Linked DNA regions of Homo sapiens. The main gene of each other region encodes a partner of the protein of the gene in region 3 in a complex. Each region holds a gene or a part of one and is shown on either strand. Other genes may lie near its edges.

Evidence for each region.
Region 1: CRCP (region 3) and POLR3C share a complex: the UniProt entries of both Homo sapiens proteins name them as parts of the RNA polymerase III complex.
Region 2: CRCP (region 3) and POLR3F share a complex: the UniProt entries of both Homo sapiens proteins name them as parts of the RNA polymerase III complex.

Annotation. Positions count from the first base shown.
Region 1 is NC_000001.11:145,838,253-145,846,463, forward strand, and holds the end of POLR3C (DNA-directed RNA polymerase III subunit RPC3), read left to right. Parts: intron 1-1,637; coding exon 1,638-1,739; intron 1,740-1,863; coding exon 1,864-1,913; intron 1,914-2,669; coding exon 2,670-2,819; intron 2,820-4,086; coding exon 4,087-4,168; 3' UTR 4,169-6,150; downstream 6,151-8,211. Other genes in the region: m7GpppN-mRNA hydrolase NUDT17, read left to right, coding at 7,389-7,580, 7,761-7,944, 8,181-8,206. UniProt on the Homo sapiens protein: DNA-dependent RNA polymerase catalyzes the transcription of DNA into RNA using the four ribonucleoside triphosphates as substrates.
Region 2 is NC_000020.11:18,469,504-18,481,011, reverse strand, and holds part of POLR3F (DNA-directed RNA polymerase III subunit RPC6), read right to left. Parts: intron 10,398-11,508; exon of another isoform or gene 10,321-10,397; intron 9,709-10,320; exon of another isoform or gene 9,647-9,708; intron 8,171-9,646; coding exon 8,103-8,170; intron 7,622-8,102; coding exon 7,554-7,621; intron 5,938-7,553; coding exon 5,825-5,937; intron 975-5,824; coding exon 831-974; intron 611-830; coding exon 503-610; intron 1-502. UniProt on the Homo sapiens protein: DNA-dependent RNA polymerase catalyzes the transcription of DNA into RNA using the four ribonucleoside triphosphates as substrates.
Region 3 is NC_000007.14:66,115,997-66,127,504, reverse strand, and holds part of CRCP (DNA-directed RNA polymerase III subunit RPC9), read right to left. Parts: intron 1-11,508. UniProt on the Homo sapiens protein: DNA-dependent RNA polymerase catalyzes the transcription of DNA into RNA using the four ribonucleoside triphosphates as substrates.

The DNA.
Region 1 (8,211 bases), on a different chromosome or scaffold from region 3:
AGGGTGAGAGAAGCTTCTTAGGCAAACATACTGAACCCCCAAGCAAACTCTATATCCAGCTCTGAGACAGAAAAACATGATTCACAGAGACATAGCGAGCACTTGGAGGATAATTTGGGGCCTTAACTGCCCTAGTGAGAAAGAGGTGGCCGGGCACGGTGGTTCGCGCCTGTAGTCCCAGCACTTTGGGAGGCCAAGGTGGGCAAATCACTTGAGGTCAGGAGTTCGAGACCAGCCTGGCCAACATGGTGAAACTCCGTCTCTAATAAAATACAAAACAATTAGCTGGGCCTGGTGGCACACGCCTATAGTCCCAGCTGCTCGGGAGGCTGAGGCAGGAAGGAGACTCTCTTGAACCCAGGAGGGGGAGGTTGCAGTGAGCCGAGATCAAGCCACTGCACTCTAGCCTGAGCAACAGAGTGAGACTCTGTCTCAAAAAACAAAAAAAACAAAAAACAAAAAAGAGGCAGAGCCAGGACATCACCCCAAACCCACCCTGCCTTTTTTTCTCTTCTCATTTCTGTCCTTCCTTAAGCCTTAATTCTGTTATAGTTTAAATTTATCAACACATCTAACTGAGTCTTTGCAGGGCTATTTAGTAGAGCATATGAGTAAATAGATAGAATGGATTTTTGGAGTCAGATTACAGCTCTGCCTTACCCAGTTACATTAAGCAAGTTACCACGTTTCCCATCTATAAAACAGTGATGGATGGTGATAATAAAAATAATATGGTTGCCAGGTGCGGTGGCTCATGCCTGTAATCCCAGCACTTTGGGAGGCCTAGGCGGACGGATCACTTGAGGTCAGGAATTCGAGAATAGCCTGGCCAACCTGGTGAAACCCTGTCTCTACTAAAAATACAAAAATTAGCTGGGCGTGGTGCCGTGTGTCTGTAATCCCAGCTACTCAGGAGGCTGAGGAAGGAGAATTGCTTGAACCTGGGAGGCAGAGGTTGCAGTGAGCCAACATTGTGCCACTGCACTCCAGCCTGGGCAACAGAGCAAGACTCTGTCTCAAAAATAATAATAATACGACTTTTTGTAAAGATCAAATAGAATTTACCTGGCACATAGAGTTGTTCAGTAAATGTTAGTTGCCCTCCCTTTCTTCCCCAGCTCAGGATGCTGACAGTCAAATGGAAAAAACAGGGAAGCCCAGCTCTCCATTTGACTGATTATGACATAAACCACAAAGACTGGGCCGGGCACACCTGTATTCTCAGCACTTTGGGAAACCAAGGCGGGATGATCACTTGAGCCCAGGAATTCAAGACCAGCCTGGAAAATATAGTGAGACCATGTCTCCACCACCCCCAAAAGATTAAAAAATTAGCGGAGCATGGTGGTGCATGCCTGTAGTTCCGGCTACTTGGGGGACTGAGGTGGGAGGATTGCTTGAGCCGGAGGTGGAAGTTGCAGTGAGCTGATATCATGCCACCGCACTCCATCCTAGGTAACAGAGCAAGACCCAGTCTCAAAATAAATAAATAAAATAAACACAGGTACTGAATGACTAGGAAACAGGAAAGTGTAAGTAAAAAGGAGGGCTAAGTAACTCCAGGTAGAATGAGTGTGTGCTTTGCCAGTTCTAAAACAGTATAATTTCTGCTATTTTTCTTTCTATTGGACAAATAGGAAATTCCCAAAACACCAGACCATGCCCCATCCAGGACCTTCTATTTATATACTGTGAACATCCTGTCAGCTGCCCGAATGTTGTTGCACAGGTGCTACAAGGTAACTCAATCTGGACCTTCTCCCCATTTCCTCCATACGGTCAAGTACCCCTCATGTGCCCACTTCGCCCTGAGCTGCTGAAATAGAACTATGTGCATTCCTTGTCTGTCTTCTCTTTCCTCAGAGCATAGCCAACTTGATAGAAAGGAGGCAATTTGAAACCAAAGAGAATAAGTAAGTAACATTTTCAGTTGAGTTATTTACATCTTTCAAGATCAAGGGCCTCAGGGGAAATTTCCTCTAGAAATAGGAATCAATAGACGCTGGGCCTGGCAGGGTGGCTCATGCCTGTAATCCCAGCACTTCGGGAGGCTGAGGCAGGTGGATCACTTGAGGTCAGGAGTTTGAGACCAACCTGGCCAACATGGTGAAACCCTGTCTTCACTAAAAATACAAAAATTAGCTGGGCATGGTGGCGGGCACCTATAGTCCCAGCTACTCGGGAGGCTAAGGCAGGAGAATCACTTAAACCCAGTGAGTGGAGGTTGCAGTGAACCAAGATCACGCCACTGCACTCCAGCCTGGGCGACAAAGTGAGACTCCATCTCAAAAAAAAAAATTTTTTTTTTGAGAAGTAGGAACCAGTAGAGATAGCAACCAGTCTACTTGCATTGAATCATTGGCTTAGATTAGTGTAAATCATGCATTAGTCTACACTTTTCTAACATGCTCCCAGTGAAATAATTTTTCAGATTAAATTTGTGAGAAACGTACAAAAGCACCAAACTTTTAAGTGCAAATGAGAGGCAATAAGAATTTCAGGAGTGAAGTTATATTTCCAAATAAGTTTGTAGAAAATGTCCTTAGAAGGTGACATTATCTACTTTGATCAGGAAAATGGTAAAGGGTGGTGGGTAGTGCCTCAGACACACGTGGTAAGAGAATCTCCCAGGTTAGGGAAGATGTCTCAGAGTTGTGTTTGTTTGACAGGCGTCTACTAGAAAAATCTCAGAGGGTAGAAGCCATCATTGCATCTATGCAGGCTACTGGTGCAGAGGAAGCACAGTTACAAGAAATAGAGGAGATGATCACAGCTCCTGAACGTCAGCAGCTAGAGACCCTGAAACGTAATGTCAACAAGTAAGCATCATAAACTTCAGACCTGCATTTCAGAATACCATCCAGAAAATCCATTTTGACCTCCTGTAACCCTCCAGCTTAGCATGAGCAAACCTAAACTCACTGTCTCCTCCAGCTCACTTAACAGAATTTAATCCACCTATTTTTGTAAACTAGCAATTCTGAAGATGTTCTGAGCTTCTTCTCCATCACCATATACACTCTCTTGTTCATCAAGTACTGATAAATTTTTTTTAAGAGACGGGGTTTTGGCTGTGTTGCCCAGACTGGCCTTGAACTCGTAGGTTCAAACAGTCTTCCTGCCTCAGCCTCCCAAGTAGCTGGGACTACAGGCAAGTGCCACTGCGCTGGCTTAATTTTACTTGAGTCATGTGTCTCAAATCTGGCCTTTCATCTTGGTCCACACGCAGGCCTTCATCACCTCTTTCCTAGACCTTCACATTTCAGTGCACAATTTGTGCACCTCTTTCATTAAATTTATTTCTTAAGTATTTTTTTGGATACTAGTTTAGTGGTCGCTTATTTCAGTTTTAGATTGTTCATTGCTAGTGTTATACAAAAACAACCAACTTTGGTGTTGTGATTTTGTATCCCACAACTTTACTAAATTCATTTATTAATTCTAGTAGTTTTTTTGCAGATTCTTTGAGATTTTTTATAATAGGATTATGTCATCCATGAATAGAGAGAGTTTTACTTCTGTCTTTTCAATCTAGATGCCTTTACTTTTTTTTTTTCCTGCCCCATTACCCTGGCTAGAACCTCCAGTAAAAGGTTGAATAGAAGTACAAAAGCAGACATCTTTGTTTTGTTTCTGATCTTAGGAGAAAAGCTTTTAGTCTTTCACCATTAAGTATGATGTTAGCTGTGGGTTTTTCCTAGATGGCTTTTGTCAGGCTGAAGAAGCTTCCATTTCTTCCTAATCACCACTCACTTTAAGCTTCAGACACTCTTAGTTTCTTGCTATTTTAAAACACACTAGGTCCTTTTATACCTGTGCCTTTACGTTCGTTTTCCTGATTGCAAATGAAGACTACCTTCCCCCAGGACAGAGGCTCTGTATTTTGTATTCTTAGCAGTTTGCATGGTGTCTGGCACATAAAGATGCTCGGTAAATAGCAAAATGATCTACTGGTTCTCCTGCTTTCTTTCCATCCACTCTCAAGGGTAACCAAGCAGTTATCCATGGCCACACCCACCCTAACCTCTAATCTTAAATATGCTAATGAACATTCAGTCTAGGCAAATGCCTTTACTTTTCACTCAGGTTGGATGCCAGTGAGATCCAGGTGGACGAAACCATCTTCCTGCTGGAGTCTTACATTGAGTGCACCATGAAGAGACAGTGATCCAGAAGAAGCATCTTCCTCAGAAGATCTGGGGGGATGGAAAGCAAAATAAAGGAGGTGCCTGGATGCATTATTTGCAGTGGGATAAGTCGCAGAGTCTTCAACTAAACCCCCCTCTCTATCCCCTGCAGCCCAGGATACACCTGAAAGAATTTGGCATATTTAGATCCATTGCTGTAGTCTCCCCTCATCAAATCTTGGCAGTGGGAAGAACCTTAAATCAACAAGGTTAATCATCTATCAGATGCATCTGTTCCCATAAAGAAGTTACCCACACCTATGGTTACCTATATCCCTGGCAATAGGAAACTTCCTAAGAAGTTAATTTTATTTTCAGATGTCTATGCCTGTTCTTTATTTTGTTGAGATAGGTGATAGATAGATAGATAGATAGATAATTTGTTGTTGTTGAGACAGGATCTCACTCTGTCACTCAGGCTGGGGTGTAATAGCGCAATCACAGCTCCCTACAGCCTTGACCTCCTGAGCTCAAGCAGTCCTTCCACCTCAGCCTCTGGAGTAGCTGGGACTACAGGCATGCACCACACATACCCAGCTATTTTTTATTTATTTATTTATTTTTTTGTAGAGACAGGGCCTCCCTGTGTTGCCCAGGCTGATGAACTGTAATTTTTAACACACACAGTGTAGGGAATGTGAAAGACTATCACAGAGTAGAAGAAAAAATTATTTTCAGGGTTAGCAGGTGGATTGTCCCAAGCAGTCACACTAGAATCTGTGGACTGAAGCCACATTTGCCAGCTCCAGGCTTCTAACACATCTGAAACTGTGTATGTAGAACAGCTAGCTCAATGCCTGGCATATGGTAAGCACACAGTAAATTAGCGCCTTCCTCTTCTCCATGGTTCCTTAAAACTGGCAACGCTAAATTCTCTCTCTCAGTATCACGGATATAATTTGTCCCAGCAGCTTTAATTCATTTAAAGCAGTTAGATGTTTTATAATATCTTCAGTTTTCTCTCACCAATGTGTTTTCTAATTGTTTAAACACTTGAGTGTCAAACAATTGCCAGCCACCATACTAAACACAACATACAAGGATAGATAAATAAGACACCATCTCTGCCCTCAAGCCAGTCACCATCATTTACTAAGCACCTGTTTTGTGCTAAGTACTGGGGTAAGCCTTGGGGATATAAAGATTAATAAATTTTGAGCATACAGTCTAGTAGGAGGAGACAAATAAGTACATAAGTACCAGGAAGTATTAGGGGTGCTACAGTAGAAGAGTAAACACTATGTACAGAGAGGCCAGAAAGGGAAAAGGGTCAGGCAGGGAAGGGAACACAGAGAGTGACAATGTATAGTTTGAAAGATGAGGATGCTTTATTTGCAAACTATCTTAACAAGGGATTCGTAACCAGAATATATAAGGAGCTCAAACAATAGCAAAAAGAACAATCCAACTTAAAAATGGCCAAAAGATCTTAATAGGTAGTTTTCGAAAGAAGATACACAAATGGCCGACAGATACATCAAAAAATGTTCAACATCACTAATCAGAGAAATGGAAATCAAAATCAATGAGATAACATCTCACCCCAATTCATTACTTTTATCAAGAAGAAAGAATGAATGCTAGTGAGGATGTGGAAAAAGGAGAGCCCTGCCTGGTACACTGTTGGGAATGTAAATTGGTACAGCCACTGTGGAAGACTACAGAGGTTCCTCAAAAAACTAAAAACAGAACTATGCTCCAGCAGTTCCACTACTGGGTATATATATATCTCCAAAAGGAAAGAAATCAATGTATCAAAAAGATACCTGCACTCCCATGTTTATTGCAGCAGTATTCACGATAGCCAAAACATGGAATCAACCTAAGTGCCCATCAATAGATGAAAGGCTAAAGAAAATGTATTATTCAGCCATAAGAATGAATGAAATCCTGTCATTGGCAGCAACATGGATGGAATTGGAGGTCATTATGTTAAGTAAAATAAACCAAGCACAGAAACAAATATTGCATGTTCTGTCTCACATAGGAGCTAAAAAAGTGGATCTCAAGAAAATAAAGAATAGATTGGTAGTTACCAGAGGCTAGGAAGGATGGGGAGGATGAAGAGAGGTTGATTAGTGGGCACAGATAATACAGTTTGAAGAAGTAAGACTGGTGTTGGATAGATCAGGGTGGCATAGTTATTAATTTACTGTACATTTCAAAACAGCTAGAAGATAATTTTGATGGTGCCTAAATCCTGTAATCCCAACACACTGGGAGGATCAGTTGAAGCCAGGAGTTCAAGAACAGCCTGGGCAACAGTGAGATTTCATCGTTACAAAAAAATTTAAAAATTAGCCAGGTGTGGGTAGTGCACATCTGTAATCACAGCTACTCAGGAGGCTGAGACGGGAGAAGCGCTTGAACCAGGGAGGTGGAGGTTGCAGTGAGCTGAGATGGCGCCACTGCACTCCAGCCTGGGTGACAGAGCGAGACTCCGTCTCAAAAAAAAAAAAAGGCCGCGCGTGGTGGTGGGCGCCCTGTAATCCCAGCTACTACTTCGGAAGCTAAAGCACGAGAATCGCTTCAACCTGGGAGATGGAGGTTGCAGTGAGCTGGGATCACACCAGTGCACTCCTGTCTGGGCTGTAGAGTGAGACTCTCAAAACAAAACATCACTCTGGCAGCACTGTAGAGAATGAACTGGTAGGGGCAAGACTATTTGGAGACTTGCAATAATATTTCAGGCAAAATACGAGGAAGGCTTAAACTAGGGCAATGAATGAAGGCTGGAGAGAACATGGGTTTGAGGAAGTTTAAGGAGATAGCATCTGCATACTTGGTTGCCATTTGAGTGAAGTGAAAGGAGAAGTGGTATCGAAAATGTTATTTGGTGTGTTTCGCTTGGAGATAATTAATTCGAAGTGATGCCTGCTGTAACAGGTGTGCATAGTGCTGTAGAGGATGCTTACAGTTCAGCTTAGGGCTGGTTGGAAGTAACATGTGGGTCCTGAAGTCATTCGGTCTGGGGGTCATTGTCCTAAACAGAGAAGATAGGAAGGAATAGGAGCTGAGCATTTAGAGGTATTCTTCTTTGTGGTTTAATATTATACCCATGGGTCATCCTCAAAAGATGTGCCCTTATTTCCCCGGGGACTTTCGGAAACCCCGCTACGACCCCGCGGAACGTTCCGAGGGGAAGCTTCTCTAGGCCACCAGAGGGCGCCAGGCGGGCCGCAGCGACTCCAGAGTCGCGTTATGGCCGAGGTGCGGGTGCAGCTGCTCCTGTCCCGGCGTCCGGAGTCGGTGAGCTTCGCACGGAGTGTGTGTGGCCTCCTGGGAGCCGGACCAGGGCTCGGGACGTGGCCCATTCACTGCAGCTTGAAGCGAGGACGGCTTGTCCTCTCGAGCAGGCCCTTCCCAGGCGCCTCCGCTAGGCTTCCGCTCCAGGTCGGCAGAAGGGGGCCCCAGAGCGGGGGCAGTGAAGGGCCAAAGATGGGGACTGAAATCGGGTGGGAACTGGCGGCGAGGACCCCGCCCCCAACGCGCGGTGTAGCCCCATTTTTGGAAGTCACGCCCACCCAGTGCCGCCCTTCTGAAGCCTTAACCCAGCTGGCTTCCTTCTGCCAGCGACCCCCTTTCTGCCCTTTTGCGGCCCTGGAGGAGCGGCCCAGGGTCCCTGGGGCTGAGCTGCCCACAGATCGAGGTGTGGACCTGGGTGTGGCCGTCATTCTGCAGTCCAGCGACAAGACTGTCTTGCTAACCCGAAGGGCACGCACCCTGAGCGTTTCCCCCAACCTCTGGGTACCCCCGGGTGAGTATTCTGGGGACAAGGCCCCAAGTACAGAGAAGAAATTTGCCCTTTCCCCGCAACAATGTTTTTCCCAGTCTCAGAAGGATAAAGTGGGCCCCAAAATGTGGCATGTTCATAGTCACAAGGGACTGCAACTCCCTCTGTGTCCACTGGAGGGGAGAGGAGTGTCAACAGTGAGTGGGGGCTCCCTGGCCAAGACCACCACCATTCACCTACTGGCCCCACTGTTGTTGCAGGTGGGCACGTGGAACTTGAGGAGGAGGTAAC
Region 2 (11,508 bases), on a different chromosome or scaffold from region 3:
ATTTATAAAATGCTTGAGCAGAAAGGCACTTTAGACATCAAATAGTCCAAGTTCCTAGTTTTTATGAGAAATCTGAGGCCCAGGAAATTAAAGTGACATGTCCAAAATGGCCACTTTGATTTCTTCACTGTGAAAAGCATCAGTGTCCTTAAAAAAAGAATTTCAAAAGGCTAGGGTACAGTGGCACTTTGGGAGGCCAACGCAGGAGGATCACTTGAGTCCAGAAGTTCAAAACCAGCCTGGGCAACAAAATGAGACCCTACCTCCAAAAAAATAAAAAAAGCATCAGTGTCCCAAGCTGAGTATCAGTTCAGACAATGCCCAATGGCAGTGACTGCCTTTGCCTAAGATACAGGACAGTATTTTCCCAAAGTGGATTCTGCAGAATGTTCGTAGCTATCATCTCAAAAAAAAAAAACAATGTGGGTCAAATACATGTTTGGAATACATTGTATGTGACAAAGAATAAGTTTTAAAAAATAAGATGAAATTCAGTTCTGACCTTACTGATTCCCAATTCGCAGATATATTTCCACACTTCATGTGATGAGGCAAATGAACTATTTCTTTGTATCATTGGGTTCTGTTTGCTTTCTCGTGCTGTTTCTGCCTATAAGGATTGAAACATAAGAAATGTAAATAAGAATATTGGTGTGTTTTCTGAATACACTTTATACTGAGTCAAACCAACAACAGAACATATTTAGTTAAGTAAAAATTCCCAATTTCAGGTTTTTAATTCCTATAAAATATGATAAATAGATTAAAATCCTTTGTGAAAAACTTTTTACAAGAGGGTTTGCAGTGATGTTTCCTCAATCATACCTCACCTTGGACTGTAGGAATTTAAAACACTGTTGGTTAAGCACCTCTACAAATTCAGATTCAAAATCCTGGTCACTGTACCAGGCTCCACCAGTCACAGACCGGTCTGGCTGCAGGTTATAGAGCATATACACCTTCTTTTTTGAGGCCTAGGAAAGAACATGCACAGTTCATGTGTTTATAAGATAACAATTTCCAAAAACAAAAACACCTATATTTTGGAACAGTTTAAGATGTACAAAATTATTGCAAAGATAGTACACAGAGCTCCTATATACATCATGCTGTTTCCCCTATTTTTAACATCTTGGATTAGTGTGGTACACTTGTCACAATTAATGAACTAATATTGATAAATCATTACTAACTAAATGCCATACTTTATTCAGATTTCATTAGTCCTAATGTTCCTTTTCTGCTCCAGGATTCCATCCAGGACATCATACTACATTTAGTCATCTCTCTCAGGCTTCTTTTAGTTGTGACAGTTTCTCAAACACCGTATTTCTATCACTATGGACTCATGAGTATTTATTTTATACTTTGATTTACATTCAGATACTTCATTGTTATTCCCACACTGGAAGCTTTGGAATGCTTTGGGCATTGGAAGCTTTTCACTTGGTTCCTGTATCCCTTTGCTATGCTCCCATCGTGTGTGTGTGTATTTTAGCACTTTTTTTTTTCTTTTGGAGACAGGGTCTTGCACTGTCGCCCAGGCTGGCGTGCACTGGTGCAATCTTGGTTCACTGCAACCTCTGCCTCTTGGGTTCAAGTGATTCTCCTGCCTCAGCCTCCCGAGTAGCTGGGGCTACAGGCATGTGCCACCATGCCCAGCTAATTTTTGTATTTTTAGCAGAGACGGGGGTGTCACCATGTTGGCCAGGATGGTCTCGATCTCTTGACCTCGTGATCCTCCCGCCTCAGCCTCCCAAAGTGCTGGGATTACAGGCATGAGCCCCCGTGTCCAGCTATTGTAGCACTTTCTTACTTTCTAGCACTACAAGATGTCAAGAGCATTTTCTTTTCTTTTTTTTTTTGAAACGGAGTTTCGCTCTTGTTGCCAGGCTGGAGTGCAATGGCACACGATCTCAGCTTACTGCAACCTCCACCTCCCAGGTTCAAGCGATTCTCCTGTCTCAGCCTCCCGAGTAGCTGGGATTACAGGCGCCCGTCACTATGCCCAGCTAATTTTTTTGTATTTTCAGTAGAGATGGGGTTTCACCATGTTGGCCAAGCTGGTCTCTAATTCCTGACCTCAGGTGATCCACCCTCCTTGGCCTCCCAAAGTGCTGGGATTACAGGCATGAACCACCCTGCCCAGCCGTCAGGAGCATTTTCTACATGTTCATTTTATTGCATGATAGAAACCACGACTTGGGCACTAGATGTGTTCATTGCCATCGGGATGTCATCACTTCTAGGCCTTCTCAGTTGGCAGCACGAGATTTATGTGCGCATATTAACCCTTGTATATATACATAGCTATACTCAATATTTCTAAATATAACCATCTATATTATTTATATTAAATTACACAAGAGTCCATACTGATGTTTTCAAGTCTAATCCATTACTACATGGATCATTCTAACTTTCCTTGTTTGTCTGTAACTACTCACCCCAACACTGAGGAACCCAAATTTCACTGGGTTGTAAACATGAAGAATTTGGGCCAGGCATGGTGGCTTATGCCTGTAATCCCAGCACTTTGGGAGGCTGAGGTGGGCAGATCTTTAAGTCTAGGAGTTCAAGACAGGCCTGGGTAACATAGTAAAACCCTGTCTCTACAAAAATACAAAAATTAGCTGAGCATGGTGGCACGTGCCTATAGTCCCAGCTACTTGGAAGGCTGTGGTGGGAGGATGGCTTGAGCCCAGGAGGTTGATGCTGCAGTGAGCTGTGATTGTGCCACTGCACTCCAGTCTGGGTGACAGAGCCAGACCATGTCTCAAAAAAAAAAAAAAAGAAAAAAATTTGGCTAGACTTTGTCCCTTTTTCCTAGGAAATAACTTCTACATCTTTGGAATTTCCCAATAGGCCTTGTTATTCATGGTGAATCCCTTAGATCACACCTGGGTTTATGCTAACAAGGTGACTCCTGATAGGACTCTAAATAGTTTCAGGATAGGAGTTGTCCATGCTGGAAAGACCAACCGCATGATTAGAGGGTTGGGGCTTTGGGCCACATGACATCAGTCCAATCTCTTGGGAGAAGAGAGGAGCTGGAGATTGAATTCACTCACATGACCAAGGATTCAATCAATCATGCCTGTATAATGAAACCCTAATAAAAACTTTGGACAGCAAAGCTTGGGTGGGCTTCCAAATTTGGTTAATGCTTCTGTCATACAAAATAATTTCACCACCCTAGAAATATTTCTCATGCTTCACCTATTCAACTTTCCCTACCATCCCTGCCCTCACCCCGATCTTTTTAGTCTGTCTAGTTTTGCCTTTTCCAGTATGTCATATAGTTGTAATCATACAGTATGTAGCCTTTTCGGACTGGCTTCTTTTACTTAGCAATATGCATTTAAGATTTACTCATATCTTTTCATGATAGCTTATTTCTTTTTATAACTGAATACTATTCTGGTTTGTCTATCCATTCACCTATTGAAGGATACCTTGGTTGCTTCCAGTTTTTGATTATGAATAAAGCTGCTGATTACGAATAAAGCTGCTATAAATATTCATGTAGTTATGTGGACATGAGTTTTCAAATCAGTTGGGTAAATACTTAAGAGCTTGACCTTTGGACAATGTGGTAAGACTCTGTTTAGTTTTGTAAAAACTGCCCAGTTTTTTAACAAAAGGACTGAAAATTTTGCATTCTTAGCAATGTATGAGTGTTCATCTTGGTCTGTATCTTGTCAGCATATGGTATTACCAATTTTTAGATTTTAGCTATTCTAATAGGTGTGTAGTGGTATCTCACTATACTAAATTTTATTTTAATTTGCAGTTCTCTAATGAAAAATAATGTAGAGCATCTTTTCATATGCTTATCTGCCATCTGTATGTCTTCTTTGGTGAGGTTCAGATCTTTTGCTCATTTTTAGTTGGATTATTTGTTTTCATTGTGTGTTTTTTTTTTTTTTTCTTTTTTTGAGATGGAGTTTCGCTTTTGTTGCCCAGGCTGGAGTACAATGGTGCAATCTTGCTCACTGCAACCTCTGCCTCCTGGGTTCAAGCAATTCTCCTGCCTCAGCCTCCCAAGTAGCTGGGATTACAGACATGTGCCACCACGCCTGGATAATTTTGTATTTTTAGTAGAGACAGGGTTTCACCATGTTGGTGAGGCTAGACTTGAACTCCTGACCTCAGGTGATCCACCCGCCTTGGCCTCCCAAAGTGTTGTTTTCTTATTGCTGAATTTTAGGAGTTCTTTGTATATTTTGGAGACAAGTCCTTTATCAAATATGTGATTTGCAAATATCTTTTAGTATGTAACTTGTCTTTTCATTCTCTTAATGTGTCTTGCAAAGCAGAGGTTTTCAAAAAATTTTGATAAACTCCAACTTATTAACATTTTCTTTCATAGACTACTATTGGAGTTATAGTCCAAGAATTCATTAACAAAGCCAAGGTCATGTAGATTTTCTATGTTTTCTTCAAAAAGTTTTATAGTTTTGCACTTTACACTGAGATCTAAGATTATTTTAACCCTTAAAAGGACACAGAAGTTCACCAACGGATGAATGAACAAAAGGTGATATACATCTATACAATGGAATTTTAATTGGCAATAAGAAGGAATAAAGCACAATATGGATAAATCTTGAAAACATCATGCTAAGTCAAAGTAGTCATACATAAAAGACTACATATTCTATTATTCCATTTATAGGAACTGTCCAGAATAGGCAAATCTATAATAAAGGCAGAAAATAAATTATTCGTTTTTAGGGCCTATGGAAAGAGAGGCTGGGAAACAAATACTAGTGGCCACATTTGGGGGTGATGAAAATGTTCTAAAATTAGAACAGCGGTGATGGTTGCACAACTCTTAGCTTATAGTAAAAACCAGTGACTGTAAATCCAAAGATTTTACACTTTAAAAGGTTGAATGAATTCTGTAGTATGAATGATGAATTATATTTCAGCAGAGCTGTTATTAAACATAAAGATGTAGAAGGAGGACTGACAAAATGAGGCTACATGATAGGGTTTTATTATATGATTTTTTCTACCTTTGTATATATTTGAAATTATCCATTAAACAATGTGGAAGGGAAATGCTATTCTGATAAATAAAATCACTAATAAGCATCAAATTCTTATAAGTGATGTTATAATTCTTATAATTCTTGTTTTATTCAAAAATAAAAACTTGAAGCAACATATGTAAGCGGATATTTGAGGAAAGGTCTACTCACTGCCACAGACCTAACAGCTCTGAAATTATAAAATTTGAATTATAGCTGTAATTCTTATGAAATGTGTATTGAAGCAAACTTTATTCTAGGGGAATCTCAGTTCCTCTGATGTCTAAATCAGTGAGGTCAGGGGCAGATGTCCCCGAGGGAGCCAGCTCTGGAGCAGGGGTGGGGCAGGATGAGGAGCAGGAAAAACACACGTGTACTAGAAGAGAAGCTCCACCAAGGCAGGGATCTTTCTACGACTTGTTCATTAATGTATCCCAAGCACTCAAAACAGTGTCTGGCACACAGCAAACACTCTTTGTTGAATGAGAAAGCTAATATGTCGGGATAAAGTAAATTATCTTACACACCACAAAATCTAGGAAAAATGTTCACAGTTCCAAAGATTCTTCACTGAAGACAGTAAAGTAGTTTTAGATTTTTGAGTGGGTGAGTGAGACACCAAGAGCTAACTGTGTAGGGACAAGTCTAAGCAGCATCTCCAAACCAATCCAACATGAGCTAAATTTTTAAGTCTTTTTTGACCAGCTGTTCTAAATCATGACATAACTTCAAGAATAAAAACTTGAAGCAACATATGTAAGTGGGTATCTGAGGAAAGGACTACTCACTGCTACAGACTTAACAGCTTTGATAAGCTTTTTACTTTCCAGATTCTTCAGAATTTTGTTGATTTCTGTTAATGGCAAATTACTTTTATAGCGGATATCTCTGCTCCATATTCCTATAAGAAAGTAAAGTAAAATAAGTTGAACTCTGGTTTTCATGGATTTTTAATGTTATTCCTCTAACTTGTGTCTCATTCCAAAGCTAGCAGTATAAAGCTAACAGTAAAGAATGCTGGCTAAAGTAGCAAAAGTATGCTAAACAATAAATAAGTATAATGCTTTGTAAGACTTATTATAATGATTTATAATTTCTAACTAGAAATTTCTTGGAATCCCAGTGTGGCAAACTTTTAAAAAACTTATGGAAAGGGCTGGGCATGGTGGCTCATGCCTGTAATCCCAGCACTTAGGGAGGCCGAGGCAGGTGGGTCACCTGAGCTCAGGAGTTTGAGACCAGCCTGGCCAACATGGTGAAACTCTGTCCCTACTAAAAATACAAAAATAATTAGCCGGGCCTGATGGCATGCACCTGTAGTCCTAGCTACTCGGGAGGCTGAGGCATGAGACTCGTTTGAACCCGGGAGGCGGAGGTTGCACTGAGCCGAGATCACACCATTGCACTCCAGCCTGGGCAACAGAGCAAGACTCCATCTCAAAAAAAAGAAAAAAAAAATTATGAAAACGACGTTTTTATAATGGAAGGAAAAATCATGGATGCAATGGAATTTTATCATCTGTACCCTTATCTCTGTTTTCTGATACTTTCATTTTAGATTGTAAATGTGAAATACAAACTTAAATTTGGGTCAAGGTCAACTGCCATCCTCAAGTGGGACAAAAACACTCTTTAGATGAGTGTCTGCATGCATGTAATCCATTATTTATACAACATTGTATTTGTGAGATGGAAAAGGAAGCCTAGGGTTCTTATGGCTGCTAAAAGCCCTGTGTGAGAAGCAATGATTTCTTTTTCAAAGAAGGAAATAAGTGTTATATATGGAAAGGGAATGTATGTAAATATTTTGCTTTATTTTCTTCCCAATGTAATGGCATATGAGATAGGAAGATTAAAAAAATATGCAGAATGGCTTTCTCATAGGACTATTTTTAAAAATGTTAATTTTAATAAATATAAGAATTAGTTATGTAATTTCAGATTACATCTCAATTTTTCCAGCTAATATCAATGACTCAAATAGATCCCAAATTATTGTAACTTAGGATTGCAATTTAGATACAGTTCTTCAAGCGGGTAGAAGAGAAACTATAGCTGCGGAGGGACATCTGTTAAGACACTGCTACACCACACCAGCTTTCCTTTTGGTCCTTGCAAAAACGAGAGGTGTCAGCATCCACAATTTATAGATAAGATAAAGAAACTGAAGCTCACAAAGTTTAAGTAACTTGTCCATGGTCATATAGCTAGAAGGTACAGATTTAAAAAAAAAACTTAAATTTTATTTATTTTGAATAGATAATACATTCATGTGACTCAGAATTCAGACGTCTTTTTCCATCCCTGGACACAGCCCTTTAGTTCTTGTCTCTTTCAAGGCAACAACGGCCTTACTCTTGGGTGTCCTTCAAGCACATGCATGTTATATTTGTATGTTCTATTACCTTCCTCAGTATACTCTGTCCACTGAGTTCTACCCTGGGAAGCTGAGATCTGGGTCCCTATATCTAGTTCCAAAGACAATGTTTTTTTCTGCTTCATCTTTCACATGCTTACCTTTATTTCCTGCATCCTCTATGATTTGATATACTAGTTTTTCTTGGTTATCGGATCCCTTCATTTTACTGTAGTGGAATAAAGTAAAATTAGTAAGGTAAGGACTATAGGATAATCTAATAATCTACATCACTACTTAAACAAAATTAGCAGACAAGGTCACCACAGTGACATATTTACCAAAAGAAAGGCTTACCTTAAATAGAATGAGACAGAGCTGTGTGTACCAACATGAAAAGATGTCCAAGATACAGTAAGTGAAAAAAACAAATTGCAAAACAGAATGGATAGCATGATTCCATTTTTGTTAAAAAAAAAAGAGAAAGATTATATATAAATATATAATCATCTATGTGTATTTATATATAGCTAGAAGAAAGGATATACACTAAATTATTAAGAGCAGTTACCTCTGGGAAATGGAATATATCATAGGAGGCAGGGATGATACACAGGACAGGTTTATGTAATTTTGTATTAGCTTTATTCCCAACACATACGTTTGCAAATAATAAACATTTTCTTAAAATTAAAAAAACAAGTACTTACCCAGCATTCTGAGAGTCCTTTATTCTATATAAAAGGCCCGTATTGCTCCTTAAGAGATCCAACTGACCCTAGTTTTTAAGACAGTAGAAAACAGGAGTCAGTTATTTTGGAGATATGTTAAATCAAATGACAAATGTTGATGCATTCTTTAACATTCTTAATTTTTCAAAACCTGCTCTTTAATCTCAAAATTTTTCAAAATATCACTAACAATTTCCTGTAGGCTAGATCTTGGCTTGGTTATATGATCAATGCATAAAGAATTTTTAAAAAGCAGCTTGAGAATAACAATCTATATTAAAAATCAATATAAATCCAAATTACATATATAAAATAAAAATATAATTTATATAAATAAAAAGTTGAAATAAAGACTAAATAGGCATATTCTGTTGCACAGTGAAAAATAAAATTTATAAAGTTAATGGCTGGGCGTGGTGGCTCACACCTGTAATCTCAGCACTTTGGGAGGTCAAGGCAGGTGGTCCATTTGAGGTCAAGAGTTTGAGACCAGCCTGGCTAACATGGCGAAAACCTGTCTCTACTAAAAATACAAAAATTAGCCAGGTGCAGTGGCATGCGCCTGTAGTCCCGGCTACATGGAAGGCTGAGCTGAGATCGCACCACTGCACTCCAGCCTGGGCAACAGAGCAAGACTCCATCTTGAAAAGCAAAAAACAAACAAAACAAAAAACAAAAAAAGTTAACAGTGACATTTACTGAAGTCAGCCAATGAATAAAAGGACTAGAGTAGTATTGTTTTTATATAGCAAATCAAAAGTAAAATAAAGTATGTCTGTCATGCTCCTGAATTTCCTTGGGTCCGAACTTAAGAGAACCCAGATAATTATACCACTAGGCTCTGGAAGTACTAGAAAGCCACAGTTGAGAGGGACGCTATTCCCTTGTTTATTTATGTATTTATTTAGAGACAGAGTCTCACTCTGTCACCCAGGCTGGTGTGCCGTGGCACAATCTCGGCTCACTGCAACCTCTGCCTCCCGGGTTCATGCGATTCTCGTGCCTCAGCCTCCCAAGTAGCTAGCATTACAGGTGTATGCCACCATGCCACGCTGATATTTGTATTTTAGTAGAGATAGGGTTAGGCCATGTTGGCCAGGCTGATCTTGAACTCCTGGCCTCTAGTGATCCGCCTACCTCGGCCTCCCAAAGTGCTGGGATTACTGGCAGGAGCCACTGTGCCCAGCCCATTCCCTTGTTTTAAAACAGACACTCATGACTTGGAAATGGATTTACATACTGAATGAACAGTGACACACTCCTGTTCCCTGACCCCACGAAGTGGCAAAGTAGGACTACAAGGCCCAATCCAGAGGCTCTGGTCATTTATCCAGCTTATGAATATTTACTGAATACTTGTACTGTGCCAGGTGTTATGATAGGTGTTTGGGGGAACAACATTAATTCTAAAAGGGAAACACACAGGTGACTTCAATACCCATCTGGTTGGCATTAAGATAGAGGTAAGTAAAGCCACCCTGAACTCCCAGATTGGGTACTCGGAGAACAGGCTGCGGCCCAACCTGGGGGGGTTCAGTGACTTCCTGGAGACAATGGCAGAGTTGAGTCCTAATGCGTTAGTCATCTGTAAAGAATAAGAAGAACCTTCTAAGCAGGGGAACAACATGAGTCCTGTGGCACGAAACAGCATGATGTGGCCAGAAACCAAAAACAATCTGCTCCTCCTGAAACCTAACTTTTGAAGTAGAGTGGTGGAGATGAGGCTGGTGAACAATGCAGGGACTCAGTGTGGGAAACCCAGGAGTTTGAACTTGAATCTCCAGTATAAACAAATTGTAGGTGGTAGAGTGCCTTGGTCAGACCTGCATTTAAGACAGATCAGGGGCCAGGCTCGGTGGCTCATGACTGTAATCCCAAATCAGGCTGGCTTCTCTGAGACAGATGGAGTCATGGAAACCAGTTAAGATGCTACTGCAGCTGTCCAGGTAAAAGCCATGAGCCTGAACATGATGCAGTACCAGGGATAGAAATGGAGGGGGTGTGGACAGCAAATTTAAGAACTGTTTTTAAGAGCTAAAATCAGAAACATTACATGATTTATTAATAATCACTCCCTTTCTTAATATCCTTTGATAGCTCTACTACTGCCTGCATACAACCTATAGCCAATAGGACTCGCAGTGGGTGGGTGGTGGCAGAGGTGGTAAAAGAGAGGTGCTGAAGATGATTTTCAGTCAGAAGGAAAGAGCTGAGAGGGCGATCAGAGGAAGAAAAGAACTTTTTCCACTGCTACAACCTCCCAGAATCCCTTCCTCTGTCTTTCCTAGAGCTGAAGACCTTCACCACAGTGAAATAACTAGAAATCAGCAACATTCCTTTGTCCTTGGGCTAGAACAGGGGTGAGCAATCTGCTCCACAGCTTGTTTTTATAACCAAAGTTTTGTTGGAACATGGCTGTAGCCATTTGTTTATGTATCATCATCCATGGCTGCTTCTTGCTAAAATGACAGTGTAGTTGTGACAGAAATCATATGGCTCACAAAGCCTAAAACATATACTGTCTGGCACTTTATAGAAAAAGTTTGCCAACTCCTGAGCTAGAAAATTGATGGGAAAGGTTTAAGAAAAGATTCATCGGACCCCAAATCTCCACATCCAGAGCCCTTGGAAATCCAACAAGGCTAGTAGACTTAAAAAACAAATCAGTCATTCAGATGAGGCCTTGGCGTAGAACTCTTTAACCTAACTGCTACTAAAGCCAAACTGAAATGCTCTTAGGAAAAGGATGTTTTGGTGATGAGGGAAAGTAAGGGAGATTTAGAGCATCGGCACCACTTGGTGGGTTTTTAGACAGTCTTGCTTGTTTGTTTCTGGACAGATGGAGAATGGCTTCACTGATAAATTCCATTGCAATGTCACTGGGGGCTAAGGCTGCACTTCCTCCCCAAAGCCCAACATTCTTCATTCAACTGGACTCATTCTTGCTTCCTGAAATGCTCAGAGTGACAATGTGGAGAATGAAACCCTGATGACTGGGCTCTGTGACAACTCATAGGAAAATCGGGGGGTGGAATATTTTATGGGAAATGGCCCAACACCAGCAGTAGGAAGCAAACAGAAGGTGAGAACAGACTAGACCTATGTATGGCAGTGGCAATTAATAAATACAACAGTTATACCATAATACATTTATTTCATTTGTCTTATAACGCATAATTATTTCTTCTTTTTTCAATTCAGGTAGTTTGAGCTGTTTCCTGGTTTAGAGTCTTATCAGTCAAACCTAACACACTTTCTCGTTTTATGACTGCTGTATTAGGGTTCTCCAGAGAAAAAGAACCAATAGGATACACCTCCCTCTTGAAAGATTCATCAGAAGCTATTTGCTCTGTGATTATGGAGGCTGAGGAGTCCCATCATCTGC
Region 3 (11,508 bases):
AAAGTGCTGTCCCATCCCACAGCCATGTCCTCTCCCCATTACTATCTGCCTCCCATCAGCTATTGACATCTTGGGCTGCCACGTCCTCCTGCTGAATCAACAGAAATGGCCCACTTAACACCAATGTCACCACTGGGAATTCCAGCCATGGGCAAGTATCCTGCCAAATATCTGCCATGCTCCCAGGGTGTTCACCACCTACGTCAACTCAACAGGTACAGTCAGGGTGGCAAGCAGTGGCCAAAAGCCTGGTTCCCTGTGTAACAGTTAATCCAGGCAATATGCCATCTTTCCTGAGTGAAGAAACACAACGATGTGACATATATTAAATCACAATCGATCCACTCTACAATAGCATATCAGAAAGCATTGTTTTCAGCAGTCTGGAGGCAGTGGAGTATGACAAAGAACATAGTTTTGAAATCAGATTTGGGTTCATGTTCTAGCTCTGCCACTTATGTGCTGTGAGAATTTTAGTTAAGTTAATTACTCCTTAAGTTTTCCTTCTAAAATAAAAATGGGATGAAACTAGTATCTAAAAGTATGGCCTGGATTCTAAATCCAGCTCCTGAATTCTTTGGCCATGTGAATCTAGGCAAGTTACTTAATCTCATTATGCTTACATTTCCTATCTATGAAACGGCAACTATAGTATCAACCTTGTAAGACTGTTCACAGGGTTCACTGGAAACATGTAAAGTACTTGGAACATAGTAAGTGCTCAATAAGCACCAACATTATCACTACTACTATCTGGGCAACTACCACTACCACCAGCAACTCCTACCTCATCAAACTGTTATGATAAAATGAGACAACAAATTTTAAAAGTTTAGAATAGTTCTTGGTACTTGTATTAACATCTCCATAATGGAAGGCTATTATTTGTAAAAGATATTATCCCAGTTAATTCTCACTGAAAACCCTGTGATGTAGGAGCTATTCGTATGATTCCTACTCTGCAGAGATAAAGCACAAGACTCAGAAATTAAGTAACTTGCTCAAGGTCACACAGTAAGAAGTCTAAATAAAGTGGAAGGTAACTATGGAACTGTGGGAAATGAGACTGAACTGGATGAATGGAAACTGGTCATGCAGAATCCTTAAAAATCAGGTAGAGGGGTCTGCACTTGATTTGTAATGTGCAACAGAGACCTCTGTATGTTCTTAAACCAGGAGTGTGGCGAGATGATCCAAATGATGACCCAAGACTTCAAAAGCATGGGCCAGATAGGTGACTTCCGAGTCAATAAATAAAGCAAAACTAACAGTGGTTCACAAAGAGATAGACCTCGGCCTTAGGTCATCAGCACAGTGATGTCAGCACTATAATCAAATCAGCTCTGTGAAGCTTACCAAATGCTACCAGTGATTCAAGCTACGATTTCACAAAAGTGCTGCTTTGCCCAAATGACCACAAACACACTGAAGTCACAAAGAGTATCATATTTGAAAGGAATCTAACACAGGAAGGACAATGCATAATTAGTGCATGTGACAGAGTTCATTTAAAATTGAAAATGACAAATCAAACCACATGTCATCTTTGCCTGCTTAATCAGGAAATCTGCCCACTGGCTTCCTCCTATCTTTGCTTGAAATTGAGTTATAACTCCCTGTGCTCTCCAAAATATGAGGCATTAAAACATCCCTTCCTGGAATACTTGACTCGAGAAAAAATATGAATGTTTTTTCTCTTCAGGGCCAATGGATCCATCGCAGGTGCACTGTTACAACTTTATTTCCAAATAATGGCCCCTTCTCTGTCATTCAGAATATTCCACGTCGTGGGAAATTTGTCCTTGGCCATTCCAAGTTACTACCCCACTAAACAAGTCAATAGTGTAATGCAAGAATCCAAAGAACACCCTCTGCCTCTTCTAGAACGAATATAAAGGAGGAAAACCCTCTTTCACATAAGTTTTAATGAATCTGTGTTTTGGGATCAAGAGAACCAATTGATGTTTACACAGGTACTCTGTGTAACAGACTCTGGCTGACAGAAGCTGATTTATTCATTGATTTTATCAGGAAGATAAATTTTTTTAAAACCCAGCTAAATATTCACAGAATAAATGCCAATCAATGTATGCTAGGCCTTTCCTTATTTAATAAAATGTCAAGAGGTACTTTATCTACCTTTTATGAAGTCCTAAACGAGCTGTATGTATTGGGGAATTTTTTTAAAGGCAGTTTTTATCTTTGAGAAGTTACTGTAACCACCACTAAACGACAGGTTGTTGGCAACAGGATATGGTGAAACCAGACAGACATCAACTTAATCAAGTTATCCAATTTCACAGCACCAATGATGTGACGCATGAGAAAGACACATCCCTCAGAGCAATCCAGCCCCAAGATGTTTAATTCAAATCTATCCATGAGGATATAATCAGAGAATTCCAAATTGAGGAACAGTCTTCAAAACAACTGGGTTAAATTTAGACTCTTCAAATATCAATGTCATCTGTCACAGTGCCAATGTCACAAAAAGAAGCTAAGGAAACTTCCAGAGGAAAGGAAATTAAAGAAACATGACAACTAAATGCAATGTGTAGTTCTTCACTGGATCCTGAATTGGGAGGAAAAAGAACACTATTATGGCAACTGAAGAAATGTGAGTTTACATTGTATCTTAATAATAGTAGATTATCATCGCTAAGTTTCCTGAGTGTGATAAGGCGACTGTAGCTACATAGAATGCCCTTTTTCAAGAAGGGGTGAAATGATCTGCTATCTACAACTCTCTAATGGTTCAGTAAAGTAAGTGTGTGCACCTGTGTATGGAGAGAAAGCTCATGCCTGTGCAAAAGAAATAAGGGAATGCCAGGCATTGTGGCTCACACCTGTCATCCCAGCTACTCCGGGCTGAGACAGGAGGATCACTTCGTCCCGGAGTTTGAATCCAGCCTGGGCTCAAGTGTCTCTAATCAAAAACAAGAAAGGAAGAAAGAAAGGAAGGAAGGAAGGGAAGGAGGGAGGAAGGAAGGAAGGGAGGGAGGGAGGGAGGAGGGAGGGAAAAGAAAAAAGAAAAGAGAAAAAGGAAAAGGCAGCAAATATCAGAATCAAAATGTTAACAAGTGGTGACTCTAGGTAACGCGTATACAGGTATTTGTGGCATTCTTTTTATTTTTAGTTTTTTTTTGAGAAGGAGTCTCGCTCTGTCTCCCAGGCTGGAGTGCAATGGTGCGATCTCGGCTCGCTGCAAGCTCCGCCTCCCAGGTTCATGCCATTCTCCTGCCTCAGCCTCCCAAGCAGCTGGGACTACAGGCACCCGCCATCAGCCCGGCTAATTTTTTGTATTTTTGGTAGAGACGGGGTTTCACTGTGTTAGCCAGGATGGTCTCGATCTCCTGACCTCGTGATCCGCCCGCCTCGGCCTCCCAAAGTGCTGGGATTACAGGAGTGAGCCACTGGGCATGGCTTTTTTTTTTTTTTTTTTTTTTTTTTTTTTTTTTTTGAGACGGAGTCTCACTCTGTCACCCAGGCTGGAGTGCAGTGGCGCGATCTCGGCTCACTGCAAGCTCCGCCTCCCGGGTTCACGCCATTCTCCTGCCTCAGCCTCTGGAGTAGCTGGGACTACAGGCGCCAGCCACCACGCCCGGCTCATTTTTTTAGTACAGACGGGATTTCACCATGTTAGCCAGGATGGTCTCGATCTCCTGACCTTATGATCCGCCCGCCTCGGCCTCCCAAAGTGCTGGGATTACAGGCCTCAGCCACTGCGCCCGGCCCCCCCACCTTTTTTTTTTTTTGAGACAAGAGTTTCGCTCTTGTTGCCCAGGCTGGAGTGCAATGGCATGATCTCAGCTCACCATAACCTCCACTTCCCGAGTTCAAGCGATTCTCCTGCCTCAGCCTCCCAAGTAGCTGGTATTACAGGCATGAGCCACCACACCTGGCTAATTTTGTATTTTTAGTAGAGACGGGGTTTCTCCATGTTGGTCAGGCTGGTCTCAAACTCCTGACCTCAGGTGATCTGACCGCTTTGCCCTCCCAAAGTACTGGGATTACAGGCGTGAGCCACCATACCAGGCATCTAAAAGTTTTTTAGAGCTATTAGAACTTAATAGACACATCTAGCAATTATAAACGTAGAAGCTGTTGATCTCTACAAAGCAGGAACTGTCTGCTCTACAGCTAACACTTTAGTATTATGTAATATATTCACATGCAATCAGACTTCTAGAAACTGCTTACCTATACAAAACTTCATATTCTCCTGTAGGACTTAGAATAGTACTCATTTTACGCCAGGCGCAGTGGCTCACACCTGTAATCCCGGCACTTTGGGAGGCCAAGTCGGGCGCATCACGAGATCAGGAGATCAAGACCATCCTGGCTAACACGGTGAAACCCCGTCTCTACTAAAAATACAAAAAATTAGCCGGGCGTAGTGGCGGGCGCCTGTAATCCCAGCTACTCAGGAGGCTGAGGCAGGAGAATGGCGTGAACCCGGGAGGCGGAGCTTACAGTGTGCCGAGATGGGGCTACTGCACTCCAGCCTGGGCGACAGAGCGAGACTCCATCTCAAAAAAAAAAAAAAAAAGAAAGAAAGAAAGAATAGTACTCATTTTATTGACATGTGTTTAAAGCAAATACTCTAAGTGCATTTTAAAGACTGTCTAGAAAAAAGTCCAGGGACTTGTGCACACAGAGGAGAGACCATGTGAGAACATATCAAGAAGTTTGCAATCTGCAAGCTCAGGCAAGAGGCCTCAAAAGAAACCAAACCTGCTACACCTTGATCCAGTCTCCCGAACTGTCAGAAAACAAGTGTTTGCTGTCTAAGCCACCCAGTGTCTGGTGCTTTCTAAAAGCAGCCTGGCAAATTAACATAGCAATGCTTGAGTAAAAAAAAAAACAAAACAACTGTCTAAATCTATACTACAGGCAGGCAGTTACTTAATTTCCTTAAGTAATGAATTAGATGACTGAAGCTGACTTTCCATTTGACACTTCTTGTAAAATTTGCTTAAAATGGTGAGTCAAGTGGATGTAAACAACTACTTGAGGAAACTGAATTCCAAATAAACAGAACAAAATGATCTCTTGGTGGACTTTCCTTAGAAGCAAACACATACACAAATGGCACATGCAAACAGTGCCTTTTTTTTTTTTTTTTTTTTTGAGACGGAGTCTTGCTCTGTCGCCCAGGCTGGAGTGCAGTGGCGCGATCTCAGCTCACCGCAAACTCCGCCACCCGGGTTCATGCCATTCTCCTGCCTCAGCCTCCCAAGTAGCTGGGACTACGGGCACCCACCACCACGCCCGGCTAATTTTTTGTATTTTTAGTAGAGATGGGGTTTCACTGTGTTAGCCAGGATGGTCTTGATCTCCTGACCTTGTGATCCACCCACCTCGGCCTCCCAAAGTGCTGGGATTACAGGCGTGAGCCACTGTGCCCGGCCAAACAGTGCCTATTAATTGCCACACAGTCAACTCTTACACAGGCAATGACGAAAATAATTGCTCAAATTCTCCTATGCCCAACCTATGCTATCAAGTCATGCTCTGAAAACCTAAACTCTGGTACAAGCAAACGGAGCAGCTTCTGAAGTCAATGAACAACTTAACTTGTAGCATTCTCTTGGGAGCTAGCAAATGAGTATCCTCTTTCCAGTCCTGTTACTGAGTTGTTATAGTACCTATTACCCACCTTTTCTAAATATGAGTATTTCCAGCTGTAAAAGGAAAGAAATCCTGACACTACCTCAAAAAGATGGTACAGAGGATAATGTCTATTTTCCCAATTATATATATTACGTTCAAGAATAAAAGAGTGGATACAAACTTTTCCAGCCATATAAATGATCATTTATAGACAAAGCCAAATAGCAAATACCTTATAGATAGAAATACCTAATTTTGCTATATAAATATTTTGCATGGTGGCGCATGCCTGTAGTCCCAGCTAGTCAGGAGGCTGAGGCAGAAGAATCGCTCGAATCCAGGAAGTGGAGATTGCAGTGAGCTGAGATTGCACCACTGCACTCTAGCCTAGGTGATGGAGTGAGACTCCATCTCAAAAAAAAAAAAAAATTGTATGCTTTTACTTGACGAAAATACATTTCCAAGTAATGGTCAAGAAATTTTTATTTTTAAATTGTCAATCAAATAAAGCATAAATATTCCTCCCCTTAAATAAATTTCTGGGCCAGCGCGGTGGCTCATGCCTGTAATCCCAGCACTTTCGGAGGCCGAGGCGGTAGAATCACCTGAGCTCAGGAGTTCAAGACCAGCCTGGCCAACATGATGAAACCCCATCTCTACTGAAAATACAAAAATTAGCCAGGCAGCTACCCAGTAGGCTCAGGCAGGAGGACTGCTTGAACTCGGGAGGCGGAGGTTGCAGTCAGCCGAGATTGCGCCATTGCACTCCAGCCTGGGTGACAAGAGCGAAACTCCATCTCAAAAAAAAAAGAAGAAATTTCAGGTATTATTATTATTATTATTATTATTATTATTATGTATTAGTTACTTAGTAGGTATTTCCTCAATCAGAATTTTAAAAAGTAGCAAAAACTTAGGGGAGCTGTTCATTGTGCCTCCTCACTTCAGGTTCTGGGAGTGTCTGATAGAGGTACAATATACAGGCATCCCCTGGTATTCACTGGAGATTGGTCCCAGGACCCCCACATATACTAAAATCCAAACATGCTTGTGTCCCAGAGAGCCTTGCAGAACCAGCAGCTAGGAAGCCAGCTCTCCACATACGTGGGTATATTCTCATCCCTCAAATACTATATTTTCATTCTCTGTGTTTGGTTGCAGATGTGGAACCTGCAGATATGGAGGGCCAACTGCATTTATTTTTTAAAATCTGCGTATAAGGAGATCCATGAAGTTCAAGCTCGTGTTGTTCAAGGGTCAACTGTATCTGCAACTCAAGGTTCTGCTAAAGATCCTAAGGAGCAGACTTCCAAAGGTCACGCCTCCTGTTGAAGACCAGGTGAGGACCAGAAGTTAGGCTTCCAGACCTTTCCACTCCAGGGCCCTTCCACTCCCAAATCACATGTCTATCTCAGGAAACCTCATTTTCCCATGAATTACTGGCTGCAAAATTCTTGATTGGTTACAGGAAGTCACTGACTACTTGGCAGAAGGGGACAGGCTGTTACAAGAACAAAACCCCGTGATTCAAACCATTTCACTTAGGAAAATCAGAAAATATACACGCCTAGCAACTAGGATGCTAGCTAATGAATTTATACAGTCGGCTTTCCTTAGCCTCAGGTTCCACATCCTTAGATTCAACCAACCTCAAATGAAAAACATGCAAAAAACATTTTTTTTTCTTTTTCTTTTTTTCTTTTTTTTTGAGACGGGGTCTCGCTCTATCGCCCAGGCTGGAGTGCAGTGGTGCGATCTTGGCTCACTGCAAGCTCCACCTCCCGGGTTCACGCCATTCTCCTGCCTCAGCCTCCCGATAGTAGCTGGGACTACGGGCGCCCGCCACAGCGCCCAGCTAATTTTTTCTATTTTTAGTAGAGAAGGGGTTTCACTGTGTTAGCCAGGATGGTCTCGATCTCCTGACCTCATGATCCGCCCCACTCAGCCTCCCAAAGTGCTGGGATTACAGGCATGAGCACCGGGCTGCAAAAAAAAATTTTAAGAAAATGCTACATTGTTGCTGACATGTACTATGTAGTTAGGCCTAGGATGGCTGCCTCTACACTGAACATGGATAGACTGCTTTTTGTCATTATTCCCTAAACAACACAGTACAACTACTATTTACACAGCCTTTACATTGCATCAGATATGACAAGTTGGTTGATAATCAAACAGTTTTTCCTCTGCTCTCACTCGACAACAATCAATACAGAAGACTTCTGTGACCAGATGTGTGGGGTTTTCTCTCTACCAATAAACAAGCAATCAATTCTGCAGCCAACACCAGCTGGGTACCCTCCAATCCAATTCATTTCAGACACTATCTGAAAACAGTGTGAGATTCCACAGGCTGAGGGCTCAGTCCCAGAAGACTGCCCCTACTTCAGACAGCAGTCACACAAGTCAGGGCCTCCAGAACTTCTCAACGGCGGGCTTCAAGCTGCAGTTCCCAAGACCTCCTCTTTAGGCTTCATTAATTTGCTAGAATGGCTCACAAAACACCTACTTAGGTTTACTGGTTTATTTAAAGGATATTACCAAGCATACAGATGAAGTGGTGCACAGGGTGAGGGATAGAGAGGGGGCGCAGAGCTCTATGCCCTCCCCAGGCATACCACCCTCCAGAAACTTCCACCTGTTAGACTATCCAGAAGTTCTCTTGGGCGTTTTGTAGAGATTTCATTAGAGAGATGATTGAAGCATGGCCAACCTCACAGTAATTGACTGGACAGAGAGTGTGATCTAATACTAAGACTGAGTGCAGACACCCAGCAAGGCCCATCCAGATTCTCCCTGGCCTCTGTGTGTGGTATTCCTTCCTACTGGGTAAGGGGCAGGACCCCCTCTGAAACAATCAGACGAGATAGGTCAGAGAATTTCTTTACAACCAGCTCTAAGACAGAAAGGCAGGGGATGATTAGAGGGCAAGAGACAGACAGAGCTTCTGTTTTCTGAGGCCTGCTTCTGAGGCTTAGAGTGCCCCAACATTCTAACAAAAGACTGTCTTTCACCTTTACTGCTCTGAAGCTGTCCCAAGGCCGCTTCAGGAACCTTGGACAAAGGACAAATACTTTAACAAAAGTTATGCTTACTGTTTTAGTCATTTAGGAAGTAATAAAGGCTATGGTAGTTATGAGCCAGGAACCATGGACAAAAACCGGTATTACATGTCATGGTATCATAATAAGTCATCTAGAGATGATTTAAAGTATATGGGAGAATGTGCATAGATTATATGCAAATACTACACCGTTTTATATCAGGGACTTGAGCATCTGTGAATTTTGGTATACGCAGGGGGTCCCAGAACCAATCCCCCAAAGACGCTGAGAGATGACTATATTTATGAAGCTAATAAAGTATTGTTATATTACTTTATTGAACAAGTATTTGCTGAATGCCTACTGTGTGCCAGATGCAATGCTAAGCACTAGGTGAACAGACACTGGTCCCCACCCTCCAAACAAGTAAACATACATTTATTATTGCAACTTGTAATTATTTGAGGGAAAGTAAATCAAGGTACTATGAAAGACAAAAAGAACTTATGTTAGTTAGACTTACTGAAGACGAAAGGCAACTTTGAAAAGGGACACAACCTTCAAGAACAGGTGGCCAGGTGTGGTGGCTCACGCCTGTAATCCCAGCACTTTGGGAGGCTGAGGCAGGCAAATCACCTGAGGTCAGGAATTCAAGACCAGTCTGGCCAACATGGAAACCCCGTCTCTACTAAAAATACATAAATTAGCTGGGCGTGGTGGCACACGCCTGTAATCCCAGCTACTTGGTAGGCTGAGGCAGGAGAATCTTGAACCCTGGAGGCACAGGTTGCAGTGAGCTGACATTGCGCCACTGTACTACAGCCTGGGTGACAGAGCAAGACTCCATCTCAAAAGCGAACTAAAAAAAGAACAATAAAAAGAAGAGAACAGGACGAGGGCGAGGAGGAAAGTATACCAGACAGAGGGTACCACAACGCAATGGTCCTCAGGAAGTGCTTAGAAGGTTAGAGGAGAAGGAAATACCTGTCAGTGGAAAGTGTGTGTCTGGGAGGTTGGGAGAGTGGCAAGTGGTAAGGCTGGGGAGTAGGTGAGGTTTTACAGGGTCTTGCAGGTCCTGGTAAGAGATGGAGATTTTCTCTAAGTACAATGGAAAGTCAATGAAGGGTTTTACCCAGGAGCGACATGTTCCAATCATTACTTAAGATCACTCCAGTTGCCATGTGGAGAACAGAATGGAGGCTGGGGAAGAGTGAACACTCAAAGGCTATTGCTTAATCCAGCCCAGAGGTGATGGACTACAAAGCTAACATTGGAGATGGTGAAAAGTAACTGCATTCAAAATATATTCTAGGGTGGAAACAACAGGACCACTGATGGACTGGATTTAGGGAGTGAAGAGAGAGGGCTAGATTTTTGGTCTATGCAATTGGATAGATGATGAGAAGAAGGTTAGAAACATACCTTTGAGAACCATCAGCACATAGATGGGTGAAATGACAGAGTGTGGAGAGAAAGGGTCCCAGGACTGAGCCCTAAGATACCACTCAACACTTAGACATCAAGCAAGAGAGGAACGGGACCCAGGGAAGGACACTGAAGTAGTCCTTGATGTAGGAGGAAATACGCAAAGGAACATACATCACAAGAAAAGGAAAGTTTCTAGAGTTTCTGTATTAACCACTGCTGAGAGATCAAGAAAGTTGAGGCCAGAAAATCAACCTCTGAATTTGACAAGATGGAGGGATCAGGTTTTTTTTTTTTTTTTTTTTGAGACAGTCTTGCCCTGTCACCTAGGCTGGAGTGCAGTGGCACAATTTGGTTCACTGCAACCCCTGCCTCCCGAGTTCAAGCGATTCTCCTGCCTCAGCCTCCTGAGTTACTGGGATTACAGGCGCCCACCACTACACCCAGTTAATTTTTGTATTTTTAGTAGAGAGGAGGTTATGCCATGTTGGCCAGGCTGGTCTCAAACTCCTGACCTCAGGGGATTCGCCCACTTCGGCCTCCTAAAGTGCTGCGATTATAGGCATGAGCCACCACGCCCCGCTGGTTCAGGTAATCTTAACAGTCATTCCCGTAGACCAGTGAGGATGAAAGCCCAACAGAATGGCTGAGAGAATGAGGGGCTAATCAGCACTTTCAAGAAGTTTTGTTGGGATGGGAAGCAGAAATGGAGTAAGAGGGGGACATGTATGTGGGGACGGAGGATTTTCTAAGATGAATTCTCTAAAGCAGGGTTGTATGCTCACAGGAAATGCTCTAGTAAAGAGGGAAAAATTAGTAATGATGGCTTGGACTAGAGTAAATTATATGAATAGTTTTTTAGGTTGCAGATGAAATCCCATCAGTGGGTTGCAAAATTAATTCAGTGGTTCAATTTTTTTTTTTTTTTTTTTTTAAGACAGAGCCTTACACTGTCACTCTGGCAGGAGTGTAGTGGCTCTATCTCAGCTCATTGCAGCCTCCTGGGATCAAGTGATCCTCCCATCTCAGCCTCGTAAGTAGCTGAGACTACAGGCATGAACCACCACACCCAGCTAACTTCTTAATTTTTTGCAGAGACAGGGTCTCCCTATGTTGCCCAGGCTGGTCTCCACCTCCCAGGTTCAAGTGATCCTTCTGCCTAAGCTTCCCAAAGTGCTGGGATTGCTGGTGTGAGCCACCACGGTTGGCCCCATTCATATTAATAAAAAATAGACAATATGAGAGTGTACGCCACACATTATTGTTTCATGAGCCTTTCATTTCAGTTACACAGACATATTGTGTTTAAAAAAAAATCGGAAGAGGCCAGGTGAAGTGGCTCACGCCTGCAATCCCAGGACTTTGGGAGTACAAAGCAGGAGGATCACTTGAGCTCAGGAGCTGGAGACCAGCCTGGGCTGTAGTG